Linked DNA regions of Homo sapiens: region 2 is linked to region 1. Evidence: fine-mapped expression QTL. A gene starts in region 1. The other region holds a variant in brackets. All regions are shown on one strand. Distances are between the middles of the regions.

Region 1 (4,520 bases):
TGTTAAGATTAAGATTTAAGATTTACTAATTTCGGCCGGGCATGGTGGCTCACGCCTGTAATCCCAGCACTTTGGGAGGCTGAGGTGGATGGATCACCTGACAGGAGTTTGAGACCAGCCTGGCCAACATGGTGAAACCCTGTCTCTACTAAAATACAAAAATTAGCTGGGTGTAGTGGCAGGCACCTGTAATCCCAGCTACTCGGGAGGCTGAGGCACAAGGCTGAGGCACGAGAATTGCTTGAACTCAGGAAGACACAAGCCAGGGGCCAGAAGCCTCCACCTGCCCCATATCATTGAGCCAAAGAAGGGAAGTGGGGTCTGAGGGAGGAAGCCAGGTCTCCCTCTCTGTGGCTCTGCCCCATCATCTGGCATTGGTGTCCTTAACTTGGAGTCAGTGGACTTGGATGGGAAAAGAATATTACTTTCACTAATCTCTAGCTGAAATTTAACATTTCCTCCAATTATGACAATAGCAACAAACCAGTCATTTTAGCCATAACTATGGCTTTGTCACCAGTAGAAATCACATATATTTTTATATCATATTACAATATTGCAGATCTTTTGAAATACCATTTATGCTCATCACTGCATCAAAGTTATGTGAGGTATCAACCTACCACTAGATCTTATTTAAAGCATTAATAAAGAAGCACATATATTACTATATCACATCGGTTTTATATGTGTATTACAACATAATTGGTTTCCTTTGCAATCCTATATATTTTATTTTATGCATTTTAAAATATTATTCTGAGATGAGACCACATACTTTACCGTATTGCCAAAGGAGAACATGGCACAAAAAGGTTCAGAACTCTTGCATCTAGCCCCTGACCCAAACTCCCCGGCATCCATTCCTCAAAACTCCCTGTGCCCTTTACTGTCTTTTCCTGCTCCCTTATTTTGCTGGGTTAGTCTGAGTCCTTAAAGAAGAAGCTGCCAAGGCAGAATGCAAGGATTTGACTAGGGGAGATGCCTGTGAGAGAGGAAGGGAGCCTGGAGCTAGGAGAGCTGTGAAGGAGAGAGGGAAGGAATAAAGGTTGAGAGGAGCATCCTAAAACACCAGTCAAAGGAAAGTTCAGCAAAGCCATTGGGAAATCTTGATCCAAAGTCAGCTGTCAAAGGAGTCCCCTATCTCCCAGGAATGGGTCTGCCTTAGATCTCTGCTGAGCTCTGTCACTGGCTGGGAGCAGCCCAGTGGGAAGCTGGCCTTAGATTTCAGAGAGAAGCAGCTGGGGCCATTGGTTAATTTCACTCCTCACAGTGTAAGATCTGTGAGGAGCATTCTCACTGCCACCACAGTTGCCCATCTGAAAAAAAGGACATGGTGCAGGGGTCCTGTCCAGGGTGGTAGGTGAGCATGGTAGTTATAGATATAGACTTGGAGGGTTGGCTATTTTCTAGCTGCAGAGTCTTGAGCAAGTTATTTAATGCTCCCTGTCTCCTTATATGTAAAATAGAGGTGATAAAATTTCCTATTTGTAGGGATATTTGTGAGGATTAAAGTTTGCAAAGCAATGTTTACATAGATCCTGGAGCACGGTCAGCTCTCAATAATTGGTAGCCCTTATTATGGCTATTGCAATTATTATTTTATTACTATAATTCTCTTTCTCAAAGGGAAGGCCGGGAAAGTGGGGCTCCAGTAGGTTGAAGATGACAGTCCCTCCCCTAGCTGAGGCAGCTGGAAGAGGTGGGAACCACTTCCTCCCACTCCCCTCTTCTTCCCCTGAGGCAGGGGTCTTCCCCTAGCTACTGACAGTTCCTGTGTCTGCTGACTCACAGCCAACTTCCTCTCATACAAACAGGAAAACACAGCCGGCCAGCGCCCCCGCCACCCCCAACACATACACACACACACACACACACACACACACACACACACACACACACACACACACAAACACCCCCCCCCCACACCCAAACACTGGTCCTGCTCAGAGAGGGAAGTGCCTCCGCCCCTGGGAGACAGGCTCCAGGACCGGGGTTCCGGCAAGATTAGCGAAGGAGAGAAGGGCCATTCCTCTTCAGGCCTCCCCGGCATCCCCCCTGAAATTTTAGGGTGGGAGTTGGGGAGAAGGGGCGGCTTCTCCCATGAATGAAACAGCTGCTTGCTTGGTCACTGAGCTTGCAGGGCGTCCGCCTGTCCCAAAAAGGCAGCCCCAAACCTTGGTTTGGAAGTAGGGATGTGCCTTGCGGACCTTCATCCCTCGAAGGAACCTAGGCCGGGCCCTTGGGGATGGAAGTGGGGAGAAACAGACGGGTACCCCTCTGCTGGGCCTCTGCGCTTGTTGCCCAGGCCAAGTCTCAATTCTGGATGTCCAGCTTCCGTCCCCACACTAAACTGGTTGCCAGGGTCCAGCCACCCTTCCGGGCGTGGGAGAGGTGCCCTGGGGGATTAGGGCTCGACCTTTCCTCCTCCCTTTTGGCAGGACTGGAGGGCATGGGAGCAGCGGAGAGGATGCAAAGCCGTCCCTGGCACTCTCCCTTTCTCAGTTTCTACCTCCGTCCCAGTCTCCGTCCCGGTCTCTGCCTCTTTGTCCCTCTCCCTGAGGTTGTCTTCGTCCCAACGTGTTCTGGTCCTTTCTCGGCCTGCGAGAGGGCAGACTGGGGGCAGACTCGGAGATAAGCGCGGCGGTTGGGCAAGAAGCCCAAACCCTTTGGAGGCCTGCGCTTGCACAAGGAGTGGCCGGGGCCCCGCGGAGGGAACCGGCCGGGCGGGGCGGGGCTGGGCCCGTCGAGGGAGGGCAGAGGGGAGGCGGGGCCGGCGCGGCGGGACCCAGAACCTCGGACGAGCGGCGGGCACCCGCGAGCGGACGGCGGCCGCGTAGTGAGGTGAGGACCCCCGCGCCCCCCGGGTCCCTGCTTCCCAGACTCCTCCCCATCACCTTCTCGAGGGCCTTCGTGGGCTCCCAGGCCCCCTCGGCGCCGGCGGCCCTCCCCATCCCTGCCACGACCCGCCCCTCCCTCCTGCTGCCCGGCCTCTGCCCCATCCCTCCTCGCCCCCTCCCTCGTCGCAGCCTGCGCTGCCCGCCACTGCCCGCCCCGCCCCCGCCACTCCTGTCCCGCGAGCACCTCAGCTCCCAGCCCCGTGCTGTCGAGCCCGGCCTGAGTCACCGGGAAACCGGGCCCTGAGTCAGGGCCCGAGGCTCAGCACGCGGGCCCTGGCTTGGGAATGAGGCCCAGCTGGAGAGAGGCAGAGGGAGGCCAGCAGTGATGCTGGGACGGAGAGGGCGTCCTGGTCACCGACAGAGCACAAGAGTAACAGGGAGAGAGCCTAGGCCGAGGCGGAAGACAGAAACCCAGGCTCAGAGGCAGACAGAGACACAGATACAACTCAAGATCTGGTTAGAATTGTAGACTGAGTCAAGGACAAGCTTAATAACAGAGAGCAAAACAGGGTGGGACAAGGAGAGGGACAAAGAAGAATTGAGAGGTTGAGATGGAATGGGGCAGGGACAGTGACAAGGCAGAGATAAAACTCAGGGGCCACAGAATTAGAGACAGGTCTATGAAATAGACCAGGGTCAGGGTCGGGGTCAGGCTGGTGGAAGGGGGACAGAGCACAGAGACCTGAGCCCAAGGGAATGAGCAGGGAAAAGGCAAGCTCAGAAAAGGAAGGCTTGGAGAAAGCAGAGGTGGGGGGATGGCATTTCACACTGCCAAATCGCTACAGGGCATGTGCACACACAGGTGAACAGCATGTGAACATGCTGCCGGTGGGCAGAGAGTCCAGAAGCCTCTGGAGTACCCCTGACCAGAGGTCAGGCCTCATCTCTCTGGCATCCCCATCCTTATTCTTCAATTAGCCTCCACCCAGGGCCGGGACCCCACACATTAGGACTGGTTAGGGCTCTCCCGGCAGCCTGACCAAAGCAGGCAGGATGTGGAGGCGGCCAGGGCTGGAGGGACAGGAAGGAAGTCTGAGCAGAGACAATAGGTGGAAGGGGAGGAGGGACTGGGAACAACCAGGATTAGGACGGCAGGCCTGCATACATCGGCTCTGGAAACAAGAGGGAGGGGGCGTCTGCACCTCCTTCCTCCTATCTAGGCTGCCCCTCTCCCTACCTTACTCCAGAGCTGATTGGCCACATCATTGGCCCCTCCTCTGCATCTCCCTATCCCACTCTGACCCACAGCATTCTAGCATCTTGTCCCATGCTTACTCAGTTGGATGTGCAGTCAGGCAGGAGCAGAGCTTTGACCCAGACCCAGGGTGGGCAGGAACTGAGGGGCCAACTCTAGCACTGACTTACTGTGAACCTGGGGCAAGCCCCTTCCCCTCTCTGGGCCTCAGTTTCCTTAACTTCAAATGAAGTCCCTTCCCTAAGTAGAGAGCCATTGCTGTTGTTCTGGGATGGCTCTGCTTCCAGATCGCAGGCCTTTCAGCATCTTTCTTTGGAGGAAGATTGGAGGCTGGTGCTCACTGTCCAGGCCTCAGACTCTGGGGCAGAGAGGGGGATTCTCAGCCTGAGCCCTCCCTTCACCCTGCCCCTCCCCCCAGCAATGGC
Region 2 (4,000 bases), 24 kb after region 1:
TGTTAGCCAGGATGGTCTCGATCTCCTGACCTCGTGATCCGCCTGCCTCGGCCTCCCAAAGTGCTGGGATTACAAGCGTGAGCCACCGCGCCCGGCCCATGTATATATTTTCTATAGCTCCTTTCATGATGCAGCAACAGAGCTGAGAGTTAGAACAGAGACTGTCTGTCCTGCAAGCCTAAAATGTCTACTATCTGTCCCTTTACATAAAAAGTTTGCTGATTCTTGCCTTATCTGTCTCCCCTAGACTGGGAGCTCCTTGAGGCCAATATTATCTTACTGCTGTATTCCAAGCACTTAGCCCAGGCATACAATAGGGACTCAATAAGTGTTTGCTGAATGAGTGGCTACACTGATGAAGACCGTGGCACCCCTCTGCAGGGTGCAGAAATGTGCGGCTCTAAACCAGATGTGCACGCGGAACTTGGCTCTGCTGTTTGCACCCAGCGTGTTCCAGACGGATGGGCGAGGGGAGCACGAGGTGCGAGTGCTGCAAGAGCTCATTGATGGCTACATCTCTGTCTTTGATGTAAGGCTTTCCTGACCCCTAACCCACAACCCCTTTCCCCTACCCTTGCAGGACCCAGAGACTCTGGATCCTGATCACCCCAACAAGCCCCCAGCCCAGGCCTCTGGTGGCCAGCTATACCAGGAACTACCTCCCAGAGCCCTGGCCCTTCTTCTCCCACAACTTCACTTCCAACATCCTCACCCCCTTGGTTCTTAGCTCTTCTGGCCTCCAGCCCTCTTAAACAGGTCCTCCTTGGCCTTGAGATCTTCCCGGCAGATCCTCTTCCAGCACCCCAACACTCTCTTTTGGCTCTTTCACAGATCGATTCTGACCAGGTAGCTCAGATTGACTTGGAGGTCAGTCTTATCACCACCTGGAAGGACGTGCAGGTAACTCGTCCTGACCTTAGTCTCCTGAATGGGGCAGGAGGAGACATCAGGACAGGAAGCTGACTTTCTGCCCAGTTGAGGAAGTTTCCAGCCTGTCCTTCTGGACACTAGCACTCAGCTCTTTGGGAGACAGGGGGAACCCAATGAGAGAAGTGCTTTGGGGAGTGGGGTTTGGTTAGGGTTTGCTCCATTTGTTCCACCATGAGGATTCTTCCTGGTGATAATCTTGGCACTGGATAGTTGGTTTTGGTTTTCTGTGGGAACATCAAGTGAGACCATACTACTAAGTGTAAGAGATCCAAGGACGAGTTAGTAAAGTCAGACAAAGCAGTGAGAATAATAATAATAAATATAATAGCAAACATAGCTGAGGACTTACTATATTCCAAGCATCTCTAATCTCATGTTAGTATGATACAACTCCATGAAGTAGGTAATCTCATTTTTTTCAAATAAACGGGTTCAGCGGGTCATTTATTCAAGGTCACCCTGTAGCGAGTGGCAGAGAGACCAGGCAGTCTGACTCCACATCTGTCCTCCCAACCACTATGATGCCTTGGGAAGTACATGTGCAGCCTAAAGATGCAGTTCTGCCACTCCCAGAGGTCTCCCTTTTAAGA[G/T]CCTGAGTGACATTGGGGTTGGGAGGAGACCTTTGTTGGAAGAGTCACTTATGAGGCAACACGAGGAACCCTCTGACTTTGATGTCTTTTGCACCCTTTTTTTGCCCTTCTGACTTTTTTACCCCTCCCCTCAGCTGTCTCAGGCTGGAGACCTCATCATGGAAGTTTATATAGAGCAGCAGCTCCCAGACAACTGTGTCACCCTGAAGGTTGGTCCTGAGGGGACTGGAGGGGAAATAAGAGGATAGTGAGGTTCCAGGGGCAATAGCCTGACCAGCATGAATTCTCTGCTCTTGCCCTGACCCCAGGTGTCCCCAACCCTGACTGCTGAGGAGCTGACTAACCAGGTACTGGAGATGCGGGGGACAGCAGCTGGGATGGACTTGTGGGTGACTTTTGAGATTCGCGAGCATGGGGAGCTGGGTGAGTATGACCACGCCTGTGTGTTCATGCATGTGTATATGCGTGTGTGTGGTTGTGTGGTCAAGGTCATCAGTGACTTCATGTTACCAAATATGAATGGTAACTCATGGATGACTCATCCACTCATCCATGCGAGGGGACATTCAACACAGTTGACTCACTCCCTCTTTCTCAGTATTCTTCCATCTTGGCCTTAGTGACCCCCACAAGCTCGTAGTTTACCTTCTACCTTAAAGGGAGCTTCTCTTCCTCTTTTGCCCAGACTCCAAATGTTGGAGAGACCCACGGCTCAATCCTAGGCCCTTTTCTCTCATCTATCTACATTTCTCCTTGGATGAATTAACCCATTCTCATGGTTTTAAATGCCATTAATAACCTGACACCCAAATTTGTATATCTGGCCCACATCTCTCCTCTCAGCTCCAGACTCACATATCCAAATGCCTACTCAACACCTCCACTTCTGACAAGCAACTCAAATGTAAAACATCTAAGACCAATTTAGATGATGTCTAGTCCCCTTTCCTCAAAAAAAAAGCCTAGGCCATTCTCCAATTTTTCCCAACTCAGTAAATGGTACCACAATTCACCCAGTGATTAAGGCCAGAAACCTGGGAGTCCTCTGGGACTCCTCCCTTTGTGTCATCTTCATACACAACTCACCAACTAGTCTTGTCGATTCCATTAGAATCAATCACTTCTCTCCATCTCCACTGCTACCACCATCCTAGTTGAAGTCATCATTATGTTTTTGTCTGTCAACAGTAACCACTAAAATGTGTGGCCCCAGAAAGGGGATAGCTGGACAATGTTCCATGCTTGCCTCCCTACAATCCATTTTCCATGCAGCAGCCAAGTGAATATTTCAAGCATAAATCAGCTCATATCCTTCCTATGGTTAAAACCCTTCAGTGGCTTCCCATTGAACTTAAAGTATCATTCCAGTCCCTTACCATGGCCCACATGGCCTTGAATGTCTGACCCCTGCGTCCTCCATGCCTCATCTCACATCACCTGTTCTCGTATCTATCCTCTTTGCTGTAGCTACATTGGCTGTTTAGTTCCCCAAATACATCTTTCCTGATTGCCAGCCTTTGTTCTTGCATTTTGTCATGCTTGAAATCTTCTACCACCCAATCTTAGCATGGCTTGCTCTTCCTAATCCTTCAGATCTCTGAGTCTCATCTTCAAGTGCCACTTTTGAAAGGTCTTGCCTGACTACCCTATCTCAGTTGCTGTCCTGTTGCTTGCTCAGTTTATTGTTTCTTGCAAAGCAATTATTTGTCTGCAATTATTTTTTTGTCTGTACCCTCACTAGACTGTGTGCTTTGTGAAGGGAGGCCATGTGTATCATGCTCACCACCGTATCCCAGGGCCAGCACAGTTCCTGGCATAGAGACAGTGAAAAATAAATGTCTGTGGTTGGATAGTTGAATGGATGAATGAATGACTGGTGAGAGCTGGGGGCTTAGTATGGATATTCTGATTGATATATAAACCCTCACCTTTCCCCTTAAGAGCGGCCACTGCATCCCAAGGAAAAGGTCTTAGAGCAGGCTTTACAATGGTGCCAGCTCCCAGAGCCCTGCTCAGCTTCCCTGCTCTTGAAAAAAGTCCCCCTGGCCCAAGCTGGCTGCCTCTTCACAGGTGAGCCTCCTTCCTCTGCCCAGCATCCCCCAGGTCTCTCCCCTAGCATCCTCCACCCAGGATTGCCCATCTATGCCCAGGTATCCGACGTGAGAGCCCACGGGTGGGGCTGTTGCGGTGTCGTGAGGAGCCACCTCGCTTGCTGGGAAGCCGCTTCCAGGAGAGGTTCTTTCTGCTGCGTGGCCGCTGCCTGCTGCTGCTCAAGGAGAAGAAAGTGAGGCCCTGGGGCCAGAGGTGTGGGATGCTGGGTGGCCATGGAGAGGAGCCATGACTGCACCCACCCTCTGACTCCACAGCCCATACTCTCATCAATCTCATTGCTTCCCTGCCCCCGACTTCTGTGACCCTGTGACCACAGACCCCATTGCTTCCATGACGTCTTGACCTCATTAACCATGATCTCTCATCTC

The links. PIP is the estimated chance that this variant, and not a neighbour inherited with it, causes the effect. A credible set is the group of variants that fine-mapping cannot tell apart.
Region 2: its variant is the best candidate, but not a certain one, in a credible set for the expression of ARAP3 in whole blood (TOPMed, PIP 0.56).

Annotation. Positions count from the first base shown.
Region 1 is chr5:141,680,497-141,685,016 of GRCh38, reverse strand. It overlaps ARAP3 (ArfGAP with RhoGAP domain, ankyrin repeat and PH domain 3), which reads left to right and starts at 2,787. Exons shown (of 33, transcript NM_022481.6): 1 at 2,787-2,844; 2 at 4,514-4,520. RefSeq lists a silencer at 2,738-2,787.
Region 2 is chr5:141,656,308-141,660,307 of GRCh38, reverse strand. It overlaps ARAP3 (ArfGAP with RhoGAP domain, ankyrin repeat and PH domain 3), which reads left to right. Exons shown (of 33, transcript NM_022481.6): 22 at 382-529; 23 at 832-900; 24 at 1,655-1,729; 25 at 1,829-1,943; 26 at 3,462-3,590; 27 at 3,671-3,804. Among named protein-coding and RNA genes, the nearest start is that of FCHSD1, 6.9 kb to the right of the region's middle. RefSeq lists an enhancer at 1,247-2,446. The variant G/T (reference allele first, on the strand shown) is at 1,521.